Regions from separate parts of the Homo sapiens genome. Here region 2 is linked to region 1. The links come from fine-mapping of genetic effects on gene expression. Tissue or cell type: whole blood. Region 1 holds a variant in brackets; the other region holds the start of a gene. All regions are shown on one strand. Distances are from middle to middle.

Region 1 (11,139 bases):
AGGTTGCAGTGAACTGAGATCACGCCACTGCACTCTAGCTTGGGCCACAGAGCAAGACTCCATCTTTTTTTTTTTTTTTTTTTTTTGAGACAAAGTTTCACTCTTGTTGCCCAGGCTGGAGTGCAATGGCGTGATCTCAGCTCACCGCAACTTCCGCCTCCTGGGTTCAAGCAATTCTCCTGCCTCAGCCTCCCGAGTAGCTGGGATTACAGGCATGTGCCACCACCCCTGGCTAATTTTGTATTTTTAGTAGAGATGGGGTTTCTCCATGTTGATCAGGCTGGTCGTGAACTCCCGGCCTCAGGTGATCCGCCCACCTCAGCCTCCCAAAGTGCTGGGATTACAGGCGCGAGCCACCGCGCCCGGCCTAGACTCCATCTTTAAAAATAAAAAAATATTGGGAGGCTGAGGCGGGCGAATTACCTGAGGTTGGGAGTTCCAGACCAGCCTGACCAACATGGAGAAACCCTGTCCCTACTAAAAATACAAAATTAACCGGGCATAGTGGTGCACACCTGTAATCCCAGCTACTCGGGAGGCTGAGGCAGGAGAATCACTTGAACCCAGGAGGCAGAGGTTTCAGTCAGCCGAGATCATGCCATTGCACTCCAGCCTGGGCAACAAGAGCAAAACTCCATCTCAAAAATAAATAAATAAATAAAATTAATCAGTCAATCAATCAATTGGGTGTGGTGGCATGCATCTGTAATCCCAGCTACTCAGGAGGCTGAGGCAAGAGAATCGCTTGAACCTGGGAGGTGGAGGTTGCAGTGAGCTGAGATCGTGCCACCGCACTCCAGCCTAGGTGACACAGTGAGACTCCATCACAAAAAAAAAAAAAAAAAAAAGTCCAATTTCAACACAGGAACAAAACACAGCATAAGAGATGTCACAACGGTGGAGATACAAATTCAGGTAATATTTTAAGTGACTTTGCTCATTGCTTTTATGTTCTGATTTTTTTTTTTAGATGGAGTCTCACTCACTCGCCCAAGCTGGAGTGCAGTGGCATGATATCGGCTCACTGCAACCTCCGCCTCTGGGGTTCAAGCCATTCTCCTGCCTCAGCCTCCCACATAGCTGGGATTACAGGTGCCCACCACCATGCTCGGCTAATTTTTGTATTTTTAGTAGAGACAGGGTTTCACCATGTTGGCCAGGCTGGTCTTGAATTCCTGACCTCAGGTGACCCACGGGCCTCGGCCTCCCAAAGTGCTGGGATTATAGGCATGAGCCATCATTCCCAGCCTGTTCTAACTTTTTTCATTTGGAAAAAACGTAAAGTTGTAGAAAAGTGTAATGAATACTCACATTTCTCCCCACTTAGATTTACCAACTGATGACCTCTTGCCACACCTGCTTTGTCTCTCTACATATGTATACACACATCTCCTTTTTGTTAAAACATTTGAAAGTAGGTTGCAGATGTCTTCCTACATTATTCTTAAATATCCCAGCTTGAATCTCCCAAGAACAGGAATACTGTCCTGCAGAAGCACAGGGTCCTAACACACTTAAGAAAATCAATATTAACTCAGTCACATCAACCAACATGCTCAAATTTCTTCACCTGTCCCAAATCCTTTTTTTTTTTTTTTTGAGATGGAGTTTTGCTCTTGTTGACCAGGCTGAAGTGCAGTGGCTCCATCTCAGCTCACTGCAACGTCCACCTCCTGGATTCAAGCCATTCATCTGCTTCAGCCTCCCACATAGCCAGGATTACAGGCGCCTACCACCATGCCCAGCTAATTATTGTATTTTTAGTAGAGAGGGGGGTTTCACCATGTTGGCTGGGCTGGTCTCGAACTCCTGATCTCAAGTGATCCACCTGCCTCCGCCTCCCAAAGTATTGGGATTACAGGCATAAGCCAGTGCGCCCAGCCCCCAAATTGTCTTTATGGCTCTTCTCCCAACTCATCACATTTAAAAGTTCTTCTGTACCCTTAATGTACTTCTACTGTGCCTGGAAAATAAATGTAACGTCATTAGGTCTGTTTCTTCCCTTAAGATAAGCTATACTTTAATATTTATTCTAGTTAGACTTACTGGGTATGTGATTTATGATTTATGATTGGATCTGTGAAGAAAACAATTTGGAAAGCATTCCTGGAAAGGCTACACATCACAGTTAGCCTCTAGATGTCCTCCTTGGATAGAAGAAACCTGCAGCTAGTAGCTTAACAAGGACTTTTCCAGAGCAGTCACTATTGAGCAGATGCATTGTTCCCCAGTCAACATAGATGAAAGAGTTTAATAAATGCTTCAGAATTCCAAACTGAATATAAATAAGCTCAATTTATATGGTTCTCCAAACATTTGGCACACCTGAACAAGGTTGTAAGCTGGAAGAGCATGAGGATAAAAAATGAGGTTGACTGTCCTGTAATCCCAGCATTTTGGGAGGCCGAGGTGGGCAGATCACTTGAGAACTGGAGCTCGAGATCAGCCTGGCCAATGTGGTGAAACCATGTCTCTACTAAAAATATAAAAATTAACTGGGCGTGGTGGCGCATGCCTGTAACCCCAGCTACTTGGGAGGCTGAGGCACTAGAATCACTTGAACCCAGGAGGCAGAGGTTGCAGTAAGCCGAGATTGCACAAACTGCACTCCAGCCTGGGTGACAAAGTGAGCCTCCATCTCGGAAAAAACAAAACAAAACAAAACAGCAACAACAACAACACAGAAAGAAATGGCCAGCCATGGTGGCTCACACCTGTAATCCCAACACTTTGGGAGGCCAAGGCGGGCAGATCACCTGAGGTCAGGAGTTCGAGACCAGCCTGGCCAACATGGTGAAACCCCATCTGTACTAAAAATACAAAAATTAGCCGGGCACAGTGGCGGGAGCCTGTAATCCCAGCTACTCGGAGGCTGAGGCAGGAAAATCACTGGAGCCCAGGAAGCAGAGGTTGCAGTGAGCCGAGATAGATCGTGCCACTGCACTCTAGCCTGGGCGACAGAGTGAAACTGTGTCTCAAAAACAAAACAAAACAAAACAAAAAAACAGAAGTTGATAGGACAAAAAGAGACCAGGGTAAGTATTCACAGACTTGTTTCTGCCACTTTCAGCTCTTTTAAAGGGATATCTATATGACTCAATATTGTGCCTTTGTTATACTCATTAGTTAAATGGGCAGAGAAACAGAATGGAATGAGCCTAAATGAGAAGCCATACAGAAGATGTCTGACAGAAATTATTCCAAAAGTGAGAAGAAGAGACCCAGAAAGGATAGGAGTTTCCAAAGAGACAAAGAAGAGCAATTTAGGAGAGTAGTTTCTATGATGAGTGGGACTTTGGGGGGAGATTTATAGGGGATTATAGAATATGTTGTTGTGTTAGATGGTGCAGTTCTACTTTATCTTTCCTCATATTTATTCCAGTTATAATAATAATAATAATTTACTGAATAGTAATTACTGTGTCAGACACTATGCTAAGCACTTTGCATACATTATCTCATGTAATCCTAATAACAAACCTGTGACCTCTCATTATCCCCATTTTACAGTCAAGAAAACTTAGTCTAGAGAAGTTAAGCAGGTCATCCAAGGTCACCCAATTAGTAAATAGCAGAGCTAGCGGAGCAAGGATGTGGGTCTTGGCTGACTCCAGAGCTTGTGTTCTTACGTGTTTTGCTATATAACACGATCATTTGTCACTGACATGTGGGATCTGGAAGCATATGCGAAAGTGTAAAGAGGCCATGCAGCCTACTTCAGCCTACTTCCAGCTGAGGCTGGAGTTGCTACTATGACTTCTATGTCATCAAGCCCTTAACATTCCAGGGTTTTAGATAGTCCTTGCATATTTTCAGAAAGTAACCATTCCTATCACCATTTCTTCACTCACATAAGAAAAATGGTATACTCCTCTGTCTCTCTGTCTTTTCAAAGGCTGGCATTTTTCTTTCCCACTGTTATTCTTCGGGAAAAGAGCCATCCGTGAGAAAGTGGCTAACATGACCTCTGTATGATTCAGAGAAATGTGTCCACCACAACCGAGATAAACTCCTTGTCCAGTGTGGTAAGCATAAACTGACACTTCCTCATCAAAGATGCCCACCTTCTAATCTCTAGAACCTGAGAATATGTTATCTTACATGGTCAAATGGATTTTGTAGATGTGACTAAATTAAGGATCTTGAGATGGGGCGATAATCCTGCATTAGCCAATGGGCCCAAAGTAATCACATGAATCTTTTTTTTTTTTTGAAACAGTGTCTCATTCTGTCACCCAGACTGGAGGGCGGTGGTGCAATCTCAGCTCACTGCAACCTCTGCCTCCCAGGTTCAAGCACTTCTCCTGTCTCACCCTCCCGAGTAGCTGGGACTACAGGCGCACGCCACCACTCCTGGCTAATTTTTTTTGTATTTTAGTAGAGATGGGGTTTCACCATGTTGCCCAGGCTGGTCTCGAACTCCTGAGCTCAGTCTGCCCGCCTTGGCCTCCCAAAGTGCTAGGATTACAGGCATGATTCACCGTGCCCGGCAATCACATGAATCTTATAAGGGGAGGGACAGGATATTGAGAATAAGAAGAGGAGGTATGACGATGGAAACAGAGGCCTGGAATAAAGCAGGGTTACAAGCCAAGGAATGCAGGCC[G/A]CCTACAGAAGATGGAAAAGGCAAGAAAACAGGCTCTCCCCTAGAGCCTCCAGAATTCATTGCAGCAGCAATAGGAAATGAAATGAAAACACTTTGTATAGGGATACATGAAGCCATGCTTGCTACTCTATGTCCATGAACACATTTAGAGGTAGACTGACTCCAGAAACTCAGTCATAGCACAGACTGATTGGTGGTAGAGTTCCTCAGTAGGCCAACTCCTCTACACATAAAGGAAAAAAGAGTTCCCCAGATCTCTAATAATGGCTAAAATTCAGACTATTCAGCTGGGCATGGTGGCTCACACCTATAATCCCAGCACTTTGGGAGGCCGAGGTGGGCGGATTGCCTGAGGTCAGGAGTTTGAGACCAGCCTGGCCAACATGGTGAAACCCCATCTCTACTAAAAATACAAAAATTAGCCAGGCGTGGCAGTGCACATCTGTAATCTCAGCTACTCGGGAGGCTGAGGCAGCCTACTTGAGCCTGCCCCAGCCGAGATCACACTATTGCACTCCAGCCTTGGTGACAGAGTGAGACTCCATCTCAAAAAATAAATAAATTAATTAAAAAATCAGACTATTCCTATCCTGTGCCATGTACTGTCCTAAGAGTTTATGTCTACATTTAATCTTCACAATGTTACTGACAAAGCTGGTTCCAGCTGTCAGGTGCCTGTTGCCAGGTCTGCGGTGAGGCAAAGGGCCTTCCCAAATAGGCCTTCCCTAATCTAGTCCAGTGTCCCATCTGGGTTGCCAGTTTTATGAACAACAAAGCTGGTCCCTATAAAGATGTGGTACTTTACTATTTGGTGTCATGAAGTCAATATACAAAACTAAAAGTGAGTGTCAACCAGTGCAGGCTTTATTCAATGGCCATGGAATCCAGAAGTGGGAGCCTGGCTCACTAATCAATGTCTCAATAAGTGAAAGGTGAGGGGACTAAAATTTAGGGCTTCTCTAATAATGGGGTTGGACTTTAAAAGCAAGGGGAGAAATACTCACATTTTTTCTGGAAATGGGTGGTGGGCTTCCCAGAACCATAGTGCTGCCTTCTTTTTTGTGCTTTTATGGCTTCTTCTGGTCACTGTCTTGGCAATTGTCAACTGTCATGGCACTAGTGGGAGTGTCATTTAGCATGGAAGTGAGATTATAATGAAGCCTGAGGTCTTCTTGAAGTCATTTGGTTGGCTATCTTGGTTCTAACCAGTCTCAGTTAGTCTGGTTACAAAGGGAACTTTTAATTGCAGGCATCCTGTTTCTTAAAGATAAACAAGAGTTTGGATACAGTAGGAATTCACCTATGTCACCTACATGTTATACCAGGTGACAAATCTCCCAGTGCTACTGCTTGTCACAGGTGTGATGGCTTCAAGATGCTTTGCAGACCAGAGCGCTGGCCACACAGGCCCTGAGGGCCCGCAATTCCAATGGAGTGGCCATGGTGTACTCCATGGCATCTGGAGGTGGTGTTCTTACTGATGACAAGAAGGCGGCTGGGTTGGAGAGGGAGCTCATGATGGCTGCACGGAAGGGACTGGACCCATACAGTATAATACCCCCAAAGGCAGCTTCAGTCACAGGGAACCCTAATTTGGTCCCCACCATCACCAATAAGTGAATAGTGGGCTATATCTATGAAGAGGACAACAGTGCCATCATCTAGTTTTGGCTACACAAAGGCAAGAGCCAGTGATATCCTAACTGTGGAACCTGCCCCATCAGGGGGCCCATGGAGCCTCTGTGTTAAGTTACTCAAATGTGCTATAAAGTCTTTTCTTTCCAATAAAGACTTGCATTGGCCTCTTCTCCCAAAAACAACAACAAAAAAACAAAAAACACAAATCTCCCTTTTTCTGTACATTCACTCCTCATTCTTTCTCTTTTTTTTTTCTTTGAAACAGGGTCTTGCTCTGTCACCCAGGCTGGAGTGCAATGGCATGATCATAGCTCACTGCAGCCTCAACCTCCTGGGCTCAAGCGATTCTCCCACCTCATCCTGCAGGATAGCTGGGACCACAGGTACATGTCACTACACCCAGCTAATTTTTGTATTTTTTTTGTAGAGATGGTGGTGGTGGGGGGGGGGTCTCATCATGTTCCCCAGGCTGGTCTCGAACCCCGAGCTCAAGTGATCTGCCTGCCTCAGCCTCCCAAAATGCTGGGATTACAGGTGTGAGCCATTGTGTCTGGCCTCAGTCCTCATTCTTGAGGAGTGCTGTGGAATGAAGGTCTGTCTTCTACAGCTTCTTCAAGCTGAGTTTGGGTGTTTACATGGGGCCTATTAGATTAGTGAAATTTTTTCCTAACTAGTCTTAGATAGGTCTGGTTATCTCCTGGGTGCAAATCTAGCTGTTTATATCCCTGTATGGCTTCAATTCACTTTATTTATTTATTTATTTTATTTATTTATTTTTTTTTTTTTGAGACAGAGTCTCACTCTGTTGCCCAGACTGGAGTGCAGTGGAGCGATCTCAGCTCACTGCAACCACCGCCTCCTGGGTTCAAGTGATTCTCCTGCCTCAGCCTCCCCAGCAGCTGGGATTACAGGTGTGTGCCACCACGCCCAGCTAATTTTTGTATTTTTAGTAGAGACAGGGTTTCACCATGTTGCCCAGGCCGGTCTCAAACTCCTGACCTCAAGTGATTCACCTGCCTCAGCCTCCCAAAGTGGTGGGATTACAGGCGTGAGCCACCACGCCCTGCCGTCTTCAATTTACTTAGACACAAAAGAGACCAGACAGTTTGAGAGACAGGGCCCAGAATCAAGAGAAGTAGGATGGCAGCTAAAGAGCCCAGGAAGGGTAAAAACCAGGTGAGATTAGGGATGGCCTATTTTATGATCTCCCATATTCCCTGAGCATTTGTGCCCTTTTCGTAAATTGGTGCAACCACTTGACCTGGTCATAGATAAATTTAATGTCTTTTTCTATTAATGTTGAATTATTTACCAAAGCACAACAGGAAGAGTTAGTGACTACACATATCCCACCTTGTTCTGCCAAGAGGTAATCAAAAGCCAAGTGATTGTCAAGCACAGTATTGGCTAATGAGTCTGGGAAGACTTTGAGGCAAGTAAGAGCATCACAGTCTTATAGGATAGAGTTTCTATAATTGTTGTGAGGTTGCACAGGGTAGCCTCATGCTAGGCAAGCCTTCCCTAGGGGGCAAGGAAACTGCCCACTATCTCGATATCCAGCCAGAATAGTAATCCCAGCACTTTGGGAGGCCGAGGTGGGCGGATCACCTGAGGTCAGGAGTTTAAGACCAGCCTGGCTAACATGGTGAAACCCCGTTTCTACTAAAAATACAAAAAAATTAGCCGGGCATGGTGGCACGCTCCTGTCATCCCAGCTACTCAGGAGGTTGAGGCAGGAGAATCATTTGACCCAGGAGGTGGAGGCTGCAGTCAGCCAAGATCGCGCCATTGCACTCCAGCTTGGGCAAGAAGAGCAAAACTCTGTCTCAAAAATAAATAAATAAATAAATAAATAATAGCAAGAGTGGACTGATCAACTTTTGGGGCTGCCCACTTGAGTATTTCATTAGCTAACAATAGCTGTTTTCTTAGCTCAGTGGTTCTCAAACTTCATTGTGTATCAGGATCCTCCCACCTTAGCATCCTGAGTAGTTGGAACTATAGTTGCACGCAACCATGCCTGGCTAATTTTTGCTTTTGTTTTTGTAGAGACAGGGGTCTCACTTTGTTGCCCAGCTTGATCTTGAACTCCTGGGCTCAAAGTATTCTTCCCACCTCAGTCCTCCTAAGTGCTGTGGGATTACCGATGTGAGCCGTTGTGTGCCGGGTCAGGATTTTAAATAATGATGCAACATGGTTAGCCTTTACCTCCTGCTCTTTTTATAGTATGATACCAAGGCTTATTAACATACTATAGGCATTCTCTTCTAAGATCTCGGGGGAAAACCTATTCTATTTACACGTGTATTATATAATATATTTATTTCACATTTAGCAAAAAAATGCAATCTAAAGATCATGATCATGGCTCATTGTTCCTTGACTTTGATGGGGATAATTGCAAGGCTGAGATTTTTCTCTCCATGTGGGTTCTCATCATTCAGCAAGCAGCAGCCAGTTTAAACTTCTTTACATGGCACCTTTGTTCCAAAACAGCAAAGGCAGAAGCTGCCAAGAATCTTCAGGCTCAGGCTCCAGTGCTCACACAACATCATTCTGCCACATCCTATTGGTCAAAGCAAATCACAAGGCCTGTCCAGATTCTAGGCCATAGGGTAATAGAGTCTACCTTTTGATGGAAGGAGAGGCAATGTCATGGACCATGAAAATGAGGACTCATGAGACTCATAATACTTTAGGAGTTATTATGATAACAATCTGCCACAGTTGGAGAGTGCGAATTATTTTGCTACATAGAGCTTTGATCAACTAAATATAAAATAATCTCTAGAAATTAGCATCTTTTTCTTTTAAATTATTCAAGGAAATTCTTTATCATAAATCTAGTAAGTCTTTAATCAGCATAACATATATCCCTGAGCCAACTTCAACCATTTTCACTGTACCTAAAAAGTAAAACTGCTGAAACTTCATCTAGAAATTGGCAAGAACTTTGCATTTTTCTTCTCCATTTGAATTCTGTGTCTGAAGTGTAGGACTCTCAGCACTATACACACTATCTGAACACTAATTAAAGGGAGGATATATAAAAGAGAAAAAAGAAGTGATTTTCATCCTTTATGAGGCAAAAAAGAAAGTATAAATTTTAAACACAGCAAATTTCCCTTAGATCTGTTCTTTTCTACTGTTTATTGAACATTGGCTCATTCTATATACTTCATGCCCACCCTTCCTTCCTTTCTTCCTTCCTTCCTTCCTTCCTTCTTTCTTTCCGACAGAGTTTCACTCTTGTTGCCCAGGCTGAGGTGCAGTGGGGCGACCTTGGCTCACTGCAACCTCCGCCTCCCGGCTTTAAGCGATTCTCCCCTCTCGGCCTCCCGAGTAGCTGGGATTACAGGCATGCACCACCGTGCCTGGCTAATTTTTGTATTTTTAGTAGAGATGGGGTTTCACTGTTGGCCAGGCTGGTCTCGAACTCCTGACCTCAGGTGATCTACCTGCCTCCGCCTCCCAGAGTGCTGGGATTACAGGTGTGGGCCATCATGCCCGGCCTACTTTGTGATTTCTTAAGAAACAATACATGCATCTGTATTGAGTTGCTGATGAATTTCAATGTGAATAATATTTATAGTTTCTCTTAATTGTCTTAGCACCTGCAGGTGCCTATGATTATTTTCTTTATTTATACTCTCCTTAACTATAGTGAGTCACTATTGAGTTCTGGGTAGCAAATTTAGCTTTAAGTTTCAGCTCAGCTGAAGCTAAATTTCAGAAAAAAAGAAAACAGTCTTGGGGCTGGGTGACAGAGTGAGACTTAGTCTCAAAAAAAAAAAAAAAAGAAGTCTTTGCATTAAATGGTTACAAAATTATCTGAAAATTTATAGGATGATAACAATTATAGGGATATAATAAACATGAAATGCAAAACTGGGCTATTTGCCTGGGCTCGTACTTCTTTTTCTTTCTTATGGTTTCTGTATATTTTGTTTTTTTTATCCTACTTATTTCATTAATGGCAGGACATCAAGTATACAAGAACATAAAAATTTGTTTCATCTGTCAAATGCAAGTTTGTATTAGGTAATCTCTTTGATTTTATGATTTTATTTGCTATTATGGGAAACGTTTGTGATTCATCCATGCAAGTGTTGAGTCTAATACTGACACTAAAGAATGTTTTGTCAGCCAGGCGCGGTGGCTCACGCCTGTAATCCCAGCACTTTGGGAGGCTGAGGCGGGCGGATCACGAGGTCAGGAGATCGAGACCATCCTGGCTAACGCGGTGAAACCCCGCCTCTACTAAAAAATACAAAAAATTAGCCGGGCGTGGTGGTGAGCGCCTGTAGTCCCAGCTACTCGGGAGGCTGAGGCAGGAGAATGTCGTGAATCTGGGAGGCAGAGCCTGCAGTGAGCCGAGATCATGCCACTGCACTCCAGCCTGGGTGACAAAGCAAAGACTCCGTCTCAAAAAAAAAAGAAAAGAATGTTTTGTGAGCAGTTTTCTTTTGTAAATTCAACTGCAAGATTATGAGATCCTAATTGTGAGATTCTGATTCTCTTAATAACTCCTTAAGAATAACACCCATGAAGTAACAAATCTGCCTAAGAGTTCTATGACGCTATAATTGGGATTTCAGAATATTCTGTTCTCTACCCATTGTGATTTCAGGGGTTCTAGAAAACTCCTCTCTACAAAAACAATGCTTTCTTGCCCTCTACGATAACGGATATGACTGGAGACCTTGTCTTTCCATCACTGTTACTTAGAGTAGCACTGAGGTATAATATCCGAACTGTTTTAGAAAGTGCAATAAATTGAGTTTAATTCACACTGGAGTGTAAAAGTATAACATCATAATGCATTTTTGATAAAGGGTAAGATAGAGCCTGGGAAGGAAACATACTAGTTTGTGTCATTTCTGGTAATAAATATC
Region 2 (11,139 bases), 26 kb before region 1:
ATGCCACAGCACTCCAGCCTAGGCAACAGAGCAAGACCCTGTCTCAAAAAAAAAAAAAAACCACCTAAGTAAATAAATAAACTATCGAATAAAGCAGGCTGAAGACCCTTACAGAGAAACTTCAGACTTCATCACTTTACTTGGAATTTTACTGCCAAGTGGGCTATGAGAACAGAATCTGTACCACAACTTATTACTTTGCTAAAAATATGGACCCCAACTACACATCTATAACTTACACAGATTTGGAGATTAATAAAAATCTAACAGCTGATTTTTTTTTAAAAGTTTAGTCTGCAGGATTGGCACTCAAGAAAAAAAGAAAAATAAATAAAAATAAAAAATGAAGTTTAGTTCTTATATTAAGTCACCACAATTAAAATTCCCTCACAACAGCCTTCCTGTGCTTTCCATAGCATCGTTTTCAACCTGGGGTGCCAACAGCCTTCATTCCACAAAGATTAAAACATGAACTACTGGCCGGGTGCGGTGGCTCACACCTGTAATCTCAGGACTTTGGGAGGGCAAGGCAGGCAGATCACTTGAGCCCAGGAGTTCAAAACCACCATGGGCAACATGGCAAAACTCTGTCTCTACAAAAAAAAAAAAAAAATAGAAAGGCATGGTGGCGTGCACCTATAGTCCCAGGTATTCAGGAGGCTGAGAGGTGAGAGGATCACTTGAGTCTGGGAGGTCAAGGCTGCAGTGAGCCATGATCTCGCCAATGCACTCCAGCCTGGGCAAGAGAGTGAGACCCTACTCACTACAAAAAAAAAAAAAAAAAAAAAAAACTACAGATCCAAAATAAAAAATAAATAAATAAATCAGATCACTTAAAATAATGAGTTTGATTTAAGGAAAAATTTTTGTTATTCCAAACTTCATAATGTAAGGGTTTTTGTTTGTTGGTTTTTTTGGAGACGGAGTCTTGCTCTGTCGCCCAGGCTGGAGTGCAGGTGCGCGATCTCGGCTCACTGCAAACTCCGCCTCCGGGGTTCAGGGGATTCTCCTGTCTCAGCCTCCTGAGTAGCTGGGACTATAGGTGCCCGCCACCACACCTGGCTAATTTTTGTATTTTTTTAGTAGAGACAGGGTTTCACCATGTTGGCCAGGCTGATCTCGAACTCCTGACCTCAGGTGATCTGCCCACGTCGGCCTCCCAAAGTGCTGGGATTATAGGTGTGAGCCACCACGCCCAGCCTAAAGTTAATTTTTAATAGAATTTTTAGAAAATGAGAGAGGGAAGCTAAAGTAAAATCATTCAGCTGTTAAAAGGTATGTGAGATATTCAACAGCAAGTAAGTATTCAACCCTAGATTATTAGTCATGAAACATCAGCTCACCAGAAAGGTTTAATAGCAGAGCTTGCCTCTCGCAGTGGCTCACGCCTATAATCCCAGCACTTTGGGAGGCCGAGGCAGAGTATCACCTGAGCCTAGGAGTTTGAGACCAGCCTGAGCAACATAGTGAGACCTCCGTCTCTACAAAAAAAAAAAAAAAAACACAAAATTACCCAGGTGTGATGGCGTGTGCCTGTAGTCTCAGCTCCTCGGGAGGCTGAGGCAGGAGGATTGCTTGAGTCCAGGAGTTTAAGGCTGCAGCGATCTACGATCGCAGCACTGCACTCCAGCCTGGGTGGCAGAGCAAGACCTTTCTCTAAAATAAAACATAAAATAAAAGAGTTGACAAAAAAAATAGCAGATCTCAGAAAAGTCACACAGCACTCACTCCTTTCATACCAAAAATGGCTCTATTATTTTTGTTCCTTCTAAATTACATTCACAAAAATCACTTTTGGCAAGGCAAATTATTATCACAGCTTACCCACATATTATTAACGATAAAAAATGACCATTTTAGCTAAAGAAAGAAAAGTCCTGGACTCTGATAAACCATTTCCATAATGTATGTACCTTTTTACTGATTAACTAAATGTATTATTTGGCTTATATTAAAACCTACATGTAAACCCAAGAGTCTAACAGACCTAACATTCATATATGAAATTATGTGCTAATACCTCAATATGGCAAACTCAAGACAGTAATTTGTACACTAGATTCGAGCACCTACATTTACCATGTAAAGGTCAAATGATACATCCACTGAGAAGCTTTCGAATCTAATTCATTCATTCATTCATTCAATTCAGAATCTATCACATTTCTAAGTGGTGTCCTCAACTAGGGGCAATTCTGCCCCCCAAGAGATTTAACAATGTCTGGAGGCATTTTTATAACAAGTAAGGGGCAAAAAGAAGGTGCTACTGGCATCTAGTGGGTAGAGTCCAGGGATGCTGCTAAACATCCTACAATGCACAGGACAGCCCCCCAAAACACAGAATTAGCCAGCCCAAAATATCAATGCCGCCGAGGTTAAGAAACTATGACGTGGCCGGAAGCGGTGGCTCATGCCTGTAATCCCAGCACTTTGGGAGGCCGAAGAGGGCGGATCATGAGGTCAGGAGATCAAGACCATCTTGGCTAACACGGTGAAACCCTGTCTCTACTAAAAATACAAAAAAAAATTAGCCGGGCGTGGTGGCAGGTGCCTGTAGTCCCAGCTGCTCGGGAGGCTGAGGCAGGAGAATGGCGTGAACCCGGGAGGCGGAGCTTGCAGTGAGCCGAGATCGCGCCACTGCACTCCAGCCTGGGCGACAGAGTGAGACTCCGCCTCAAAAAAAAAAAAAAAAAAAAAAAAAAAGAAACTATGATGTACAGAAAAAAACTTTTTAAACCCATCTGTCTAAAAAACAGTACTCACTGCACCTTTGTTTCCTATATTATTTGCTAATTCCTTTCTTTTCATACTAGTCTTTGGCAATAAACTCGACCTATTCCCATTTTTTCAATCAGCTTCTAACTTCCAAACTTGTCAATAGAATCTTCATCATCCCAGTTAGCCAGGTTCTAAATCCTGGTGTCATCTTTGAATTATCCCTACTTTTTTTTTTTTTTTTTTTTTGAGACAGAGTCTCGCTCTGTCACCCAGGCTGGAGTGGCGCGATCTTGGCTCACTGCAACCTCCACCTCCCGGGTTCAAGCGATTCTCCTGTCTCAGCCTCCTGAGTAGCTAGGACTACAGGCGCGTGCCACCATGCCCAGCTAATTTTTCTATTTTTAGTACAGACGAGGTTTCACCATGTTGCTCAGGCTGGTCTCGAACTCCTGACCTCATGATCTGCCCACCTCGGCCTCCCACAGTGCTGGGATTACAGGCGTGAGCCACCGCACCTGGCCGAATTACTCCTGTTTTTAATAATAACAGTAGTATTAGTAATGGCAGCAGCTACACACATTTAGCTCATACTATGTGCCCAGCCACTATTCATTTAATACTAGGTACTATTATTATCACCACTTTACAAATGAAGAGTCCAAGACACAAAAAGTTAAATAACTTGTCCCAGGTCACAAAGCTCATAAGCAGCCAAGCAAGGTTTCAAATCCAGGAAAAATGGGTCCAGAGTTCATGCCCTTAACAAATACTCCAAAGTGATCTCTCTTCTTTCATCCTCTATCAAATCATAAAGTCCTTTAAGTTCCAAAGGGCAGGGACTCTGTTATGTTCACAGCAACATTCCCACAATCCAGTACATAACAGGTGCTCAAAAAAAACCCTTGTTTGTTGAATGAATGAAAGGACCCTTGAAATTACTCCTCCCATTTCCACTGCCACCACTCAAGGCCAGTCTTTCAGGTAAAGACTAGCCAATCAGGTAAATGGATATAAACTTCTCTGCCAGATTTTCCATAACCCAGTCCCATCCAGCCTATCAAAATTTTCTTTCTACTGCTTCTTAATTAGAATCATAAAATCTTAAAACCAGAAAGTATCTTAGAGATCATCCAGTCCAACCTCCTCACTTTACAGATAAAGAAACCCAAAGATGGTGACTAAAATCACCCAGGCAGGTGGAGCCAGAACCAGAACTTGACTCTTCCAATTTTTGCTCTATGATCTTTTTCTTCCAACTCATAATGATGCTTCATTCCTGACAGCTGTCTCCTCACTAGCCCATCAACAAATTATATCTATTCCCATGTTCCCGTTCAAGTTGTTTCTTCTACCCAAATTGTTCTCCCTCTCCATAGATCCAAATCCTCAAAATGTCTTCCTATTCCATTCTTCATGACTTCCTCTTTCTTGGAAAATCTTACATACCGAATAAGATAGTAAAGCAAGAGGATCACCATTGCCTACTAGGCCAAGTTTAATGCATAGTAACACTTCCCACAAAGTGAAGCTTACTTGGATGATTTCTTCCCTGTAAACTACTAATCCATTCTTCCATCCTGTGTTTTAGGAAGTGATTTTAATAAAGATTAGCTCATATATCACCTTCATAAAGTGTTCATATACCCGAAAGAGACACTCAAGCACATCTTCAATAGGAGACATGTGGCCAGGCGCAGTGCCTCACGCCTGTAATCCCAGCACTTTGGGAGGCTGTGGCGGGTGGATCATGAGGTCAGGCGTTCGAGACCAGCCTGGCCAACATAGAGAAACCCCACCCTACTAAAAACACAAAAAATTAGCCGGGTGTGGTGGCGGGCGCCTGTAATCCCAGCTACTCCGAGGCTGAGGCAGGAGAATCGCTTGAACCTGGGAGGCAGAGGTTGCAGTGAGCCAAGATCACGCCACTGCACTCCAGCCTGGGCGACAGAATGAGACTCCGTCTCCAAAAAAAAAAAAAAAAAAAAAAGAGTTTGGGCCAGGAACGGTGGTGGCTCACACCCGTAATCCCAGCACTTTGAGAGGCCAAGGCAGGCAGATTACCTGATGTCAGGAGTATATGACAAAATCCCACCACCACCAAAAATACAAAAATTAGCCGGGCGTGGTGGTGCACACCTGCAGTTCCAGCTACTCGGGAGGCTGAGGCAGGAGAATCACTTGAACCCGGGAGGCAGAGATTGCAGTGAGCCGACATCCCGCCATTGCACTCCATCATGGGGACCAAAGCGAGACTCTGTCTCAAAAAAAACAAAAACAAAAACAAAACAAAAAAACAAGACAAAAAAAGTTTGGAGACAACTATTCTAAAAATACATTGACAATGAGATCAAAATAATAGGTTTCAGACTACAGGGAGCATACATACATGTATGTATGTATATGGGCACACGCACACACTACAAAGGAAAACTTGTTCATATCCTGACTGACGTCCTAACCATGCCCACCAACCTCTAGCCCTTGCCAGCAATCTCAGAATTGTGTGTCCTACTCTGAAGCATAGTACAGAGGCTTTGGCAAAGCCTTTCATTTCTAGTAAAAACGAAATACAAAACAAAATAAACCACAAAAGCATGTCAAAAGTGATAAGATGATGCTAACTTCATCTTCCCTACAGAAAAGCATTTGACACTGTCCACAGTTCACTATCCTGACACTGCTCATCACCTAACGTAAACACATACCTTGTACTCCACAATCTCCTGAAATTCAGTTCCCATTTCCCAATCCCTTAGGATACAACCCATTTCCCCTTCACTAACGACGGGTTTATGCTCCCACCTCTGGGACTGAGCTAATACTGCCCTTCATCCTTCCCTCTCCTGAAGCTGCCATTCACTTTCTTTCTGCAGCCGCATAGTCCCGTCCCAGAGTAGAGGACAGACCATCCAGGGTCCCCAAACCCACTTCTCTTTCCTTCTCCGCCCCCGGGATCTGCCAGCCAGGCTAGAGACGCGAGGGGGGAGGGGTGTGACTCGCCTCCCAGGACTGGACCAGATGGCAGCGGATTCCGCCCCCACTCTCAGGCACCTTCCACCCTCCGACCCCTCGGGCAGCCCGTCCGCCACCCACCCCGCCCCGACCCCACCCCCGGCCTCCCCCACGCTCTCATGCCGGCTCCCAGACACACTCACCATGCTGGGTGAAGATATTGAAGCCGGTCTCTGTGGTGCGCCCCGCCGGGTCCCGCCTGCGGCCGGAGGGCCTGGCTGCACTGCTGCCCCGGATCCCGCGGGGCTGAGGCTGCTGGAGCCCCGGAGCTTCCCCGACGCGGCCCACCTGCTGCCCCATCCCTGCTCTCGCGTACTCCCGCGCCCCCGCCGACCCCTGGTCACATTCCTCCTCGGCTCCGGCCTCGGGCTCCTGGCGCTGCTCCGGTCTCTCCCTCCCAGCCCAGGCCCTGGCCCTGAGTGGCTGGGCCACCGGCGGCTCCGCACCCGGCCTCCTCACGGCAGCCGCCGCGCTGCCTCCAGGCGACTCACAGATTCTGCTTTTCCCTCCTCCTGTCGCGGCTCCGCGCCCCCAACGCCGCCGCCGCCGCCGCCGCCACCGCCGCCGCCATCTTTAAACCACCGAGCGCTGGGAAAGCGTGGGACAGAGCGTCTCCCGCCCCCCGCCCCCCGCCCCCCGCCCGCCAGTCACCTCCGCCGCGGGGAAGGAGGGCTTCCCGGCTGCCGCCCCGCCCTGCCGCGCCGCGCCCCCCGTCCCCGCCCCCGCCTCCTCGCAGGGTGGGTCCCCCAGTGCCCACCTCATTTGCCGGCCACCGCTGCTTGAGGTCTTTCGTCCTCCGCGTCCTGTCGCCGCACCTCGGCGTCCCCCCCCTCAATCCGCCTCAGCCGACCCCCTCCCGCGTTCGGCTCCACACGCTACCGCCTTTGGGGTTGGTCGGTCTCCGGCCTTCCCCATCCCACCTCCACCTGTCAAATGAGTGAGTCGAGGGCTCAGTGCCACCGCGTGCGCAGCTCAGGTGCAGGCACAGGTGGGGCAGAAAAGCACAAGGCATTTATTTGGTCCTTGCCATCCAGTTAAGGAGCTCTAAAATACCCAGGGGGATCTCTTTTAAACACCCTTGTCAGCAGCAGGCCTCCAGTAAAAATTAAAATGGTATAAAATTTACAAGAAGAGAGTAAAATGCTACCTTATTTGATTTTAATTTTTGGAGATTATTTCATGATGTTAAATCGCACTGGCCTGGATTGTGTGCCTTCTATAGTCTCATTGGGGACGCAATTGTAGCCCCATTCCTCATATTATATTACCATGAATTCCTCTTGAACTCCTTTACCATCTCACCATATGTGAGTTTCTGTTTCCTTACAATGCCTGACAGTAAAGTTAATCTTCCCACTGGCATCCTTTATACACTGTGCACGTGGTCAGGTCTTCTTTTGATGACAAAGGAGAAAAAATATATATCTTTGACCCTGTTTCTGAGTCAGAACTTACTCATTTTAGCTTATGCAGTCTAAAGAGAGTGAATGAGGCAGAAAAGAAGCGTTTTATACATACACATATACTATATACAATTGACTCGCCATCCCCCTCTCCCACTGTGTTTACTTGCATCTTAATTCAATTTTTTTTAATTCTCAAATCTTGATCATTCTCCTGTTATTCTTTTGGCTTCCCAATTTGCTTTATAAAAAGTATCAGTTAATGGAGGTACTACACTGAAATTTTGCTTAAATTAGACAGGACGGGAGCCACTGCAAAGAAGGAACAAAACAACCACTGGAAATGTAGGGTTGGGAGAAGAGGTGGATGAAGCTCTCCTTTGCATATCTTTCCTGAACCAGGTTGACCTTAGATGAACCATCCACTGACGTAGATATTGCCTGTTGTAAAAGCACTATGAAATTATTCCATTGCCATCTAGGGTGTAGCCAGAAATAACTGAAATTAACTCCAAAATGGGAACGGAAACACTATGTGTAAACACTGGATAAAATATGAACTTTCCATTTGGATTAAAGTTTCCCTGTGTTTAAAATACCTGTCTTTTCTTCTAATTCCCAGTGTTTGCAACTACTGAAAAAAATTCATTCGAAAGGGATAAAGATGTCACAGAGCCGGAATTTGGTTTACTGTTTGATTTTTATTATGGGAGAAAATTTTAATTTGGGGATAATGGTTTGGTTTCTCTGCTAATTCATGCATACTATATAAAGATAGATGAATATATGGGTTGAACATCTCAAATCTGAAAATCCAAAATGCTGCAAAATTCGAAATTTTTTGAGCACCAATATGATGCCAGAGGTGGAACATTTCACGTAAGTACTTAACATAAACTTTGTTTCATGCACAAAATTTTTAAAATATTGTATTAAATTGCATTCAAGCTATGTGTATAAAGGTGTATATGAAACATAAATGAATTTTGTGTTTAGACTTGGGTCGCATGCCCAAGATATCTCATTATGTGTGTGTAAATATTCCCAAATCTGAAACACTTGTGGTCCGAACATTTCTGATAAGGGCTGCTCAGCCTGCAGTAGAGTGCAGTGGCTAAGGGCAGGGGCTCTGAAGCCAGACTGCTTGGGTTCATAACTTGGCCCTGATACTTATGGACTATTTGATCTGGGCAAAGTACATAACCTTTTTGTGTCTCAGTACATTATCTGTAAACTGATGATGATAACAAATAGTATCTACCTTATAGGAATATTGTGAAAATTAAATTAGTCAATATATATGTATAGTACTTAAAACAGTATTTGGCATATAACTGGTGTCATATATGCATATACTATTAATACAAAAAACATAATGGTTTTAGGTTTTACAAGCCTAACTTTTTCAAATTTTATATATATATATATATATAAATTTGAGCAATGGCCAGAGGCCAGCATAAAAGATCAGACACATCACCAACAGCAGTAAGGCGTGCTGAAGACACAGATACTCTTCATCCTCATCATCCTTATCACAGGAGCAACACCACTCTCTCCAGAAGGAAGGAGCTTGTGAGTAATGCCTCACCAATCCCTGACTTCACCAGTCTGCATTTCTAGGCTATTGCCATACTTTTTACAGTTTTACAGTATCTCTCATATCTACCTCTTCCCTTCATCTATATAAACAGCGTTATGTAAGACACAGTGTTAGCTTAGGCATCTCTGCGCTGGTTTCTCCCGCTACTAGCCCTTTCTTCCTAGAGATTCCTCACCTTTAGCACCAAGCAACTCACTCAAAGAAACTGCTTCTCTCATTGCTTTGACCACACTCTCCCTCTCATTCATTACGTACAAAGTCTTAAGTCTAAAATTTTCACCTAATGGGCCGGGCACAGTGGCTCATGTTTGTAATCCCAGCACTTTGGGAGGCCAAGGTGGGCGGATCACTTGAGGTCAGGAGTTTAAGACCAGTCAGGCCAATATGGTGAAACCCCGTCTCTACTAAAAATGCAAAAACTAGCCAATCGTGGGGGCGCGTGCCTGTAATCCCAGCTACTGGGGAACCTGAGGCAGGCGAATTGCTTGAGCCCAGGAGGCGGAAGTTGCAGTGACAGGAGATTGCGCCACTGCACCCCAGCCTAGGTGACAGAGGGAGTCTCTGTCTCAAAAATAAATAAATAAATAAATAAATAAACAAAATAAACGTTTCACCTAGTGTTTCGAAGTTATTTTCCAGGATAACTGGATTATAATTGCCTAATGTTCTTCCATCTCCTGTTCCTCCAACCTCCACCTTTCCTATGGCAGGCATACATACTTTATCCAATTAGCCTATTTCTGAGATGTATCCCTTTTAGCTATGAGTTTTGCAATAATTATATTCTCCCTAATATAAGTCTCGAGTGACTCCCTTACAGGATTCTACTGTCCTCTTCAGTATTCTATTCAGATCCTGCCTCCTTGATAAGAGAACCTCAGACTTATTAATACAGACCTAACAGTTTCCTCGGACTCTATTCAGTACAGGCCTTAACCACAACTGGTAATAATTCTTTCGTTATAAAATTCGCTTACCTTCCTCTACATCCCTCAAATATGGTTTTTTGTTTTTTGTTTTTTGTTTTTGATATGGAGTCTCGCTCTGTCCCCCAGGCTGGAGTGCAGTGGCGCGATCTCGGCTCACTGCAAGCTCCGCCTCCCGGGTTCACACCATTCTCCTGCCTCAGCCTCCCGAGTAGCTGGGACTACAGGCGACCACCACTACACCCGGCTAATTTTTTGTTTTTTAGAAGAGATGGGATTTCACCGTGTTAGCCAGGATAGTCTCGATCTCCTGACCTTGTGATCCATCTGCCTTGGCCTCCCAAAGTGCTGGGATTACAGGCGTGAGCCACCGCACCCGGCTGTTTTGTTTTGACACATGACTCAAGTGTCATAGAGTTGGAAAGAAACTTAGAGGTCATGTAGGCTAATCTGGAATCCTCTCTGCAGTAATTCCAGTGAGGGTATCCATTTCTTTCAAAAGGTTCTAATTATTAAAACATACTTCCTGGGCCAGGCGCAGTGGCTCACGCCTGTAATCCCAGCACTTTGGGAGGCCAAAGTGGGCGGATCACAAGGTCAGGAGATCGAGACCATCCTGGCTAACATGGTGAAACCCCATCTCTACCAAAAATACAAAAAATTAGCCGGGCGTGGTGGCAGGCGCCTGTAATCCCAGCTACTCAGGAGGCTGATTCAGGAGAATGGCATGAACCCAGGAGGCGGAGCTTACAGTGAGCTGAGATCACACCATTGCACTCCAGCCTGGGTGACAGAGCCAGACTCAGTCTCAAAAAAAAAGTTCTTCCTAAAGATAAACTGAAAAATGTTCCCCTGAAACTTCCACCTGTTTCACCCCAGTTCTAATTCTACCATGTAGCTACACAGAACAAATATAATCTTTATTCTACATGAAATCTTTCACATATTTGAAAGCTATCATGTTTCCCCAAATCTTTTATTTTCTTGCATATATGCATGTTTATATAGTTATGTTTATCTATCTATATTTATCTACGTGGGCTGAAAATGTTTATGTAGATAAATTGAGAGAAAAAAATTTTGTTGTAATTTTACGTATAGCATTTTCCTTTTTCTTTTCTTTCTTTTTTTTTTTTTTGGAGACAGAATCTCACTCTGTTGCCCAGGCTGTAGTGCAGTGGCATGATCTCGGCTCACTGCAGCCTCCGCCTCCCAGGTTCTAGCGATTCTTCTGCCTCAGCCTCCTGAGTAGCTGAGATTACAGGCGTGTACCACCACACCTGGCTAATTTTTGTATTTTTAGTAGAGATGAGGTTTCACCATCTTGGCCAGGCTGGTCTTGAACTCCTCACCTCGTAATCCACCTGCCTTGGCCTCCCACAGTGCTGGGATTACAGGTGCGAGCCACCAGAGCCTGGCCAGCATTTTTCTTAAACTGTTTATGTACACAGTTCTTTGGACTTTGTTTATGTGATTT

The links. PIP is the estimated chance that this variant, and not a neighbour inherited with it, causes the effect.
Region 2: ABL2 starts here. The variant in region 1 is fine-mapped to the expression of ABL2 in whole blood (TOPMed, PIP 0.98).

The regions. Positions count from the first base shown.
Region 1 is chr1:179,249,763-179,260,901 of GRCh38, forward strand. It overlaps the pseudogene COX5BP8. Among named protein-coding and RNA genes, the nearest start is that of ABL2, 26 kb to the left of the region's middle. RefSeq lists a silencer at 734-906. The variant G/A (reference allele first, on the strand shown) is at 4,607.
Region 2 is chr1:179,223,368-179,234,506 of GRCh38, forward strand. It overlaps ABL2 (ABL proto-oncogene 2, non-receptor tyrosine kinase), which reads right to left and starts at 6,310. Exons shown (of 12, transcript NM_007314.4): 1 at 5,874-6,310. The coding sequence starts at 6,030. RefSeq lists an enhancer at 5,604-6,360 and a silencer at 5,816-6,225.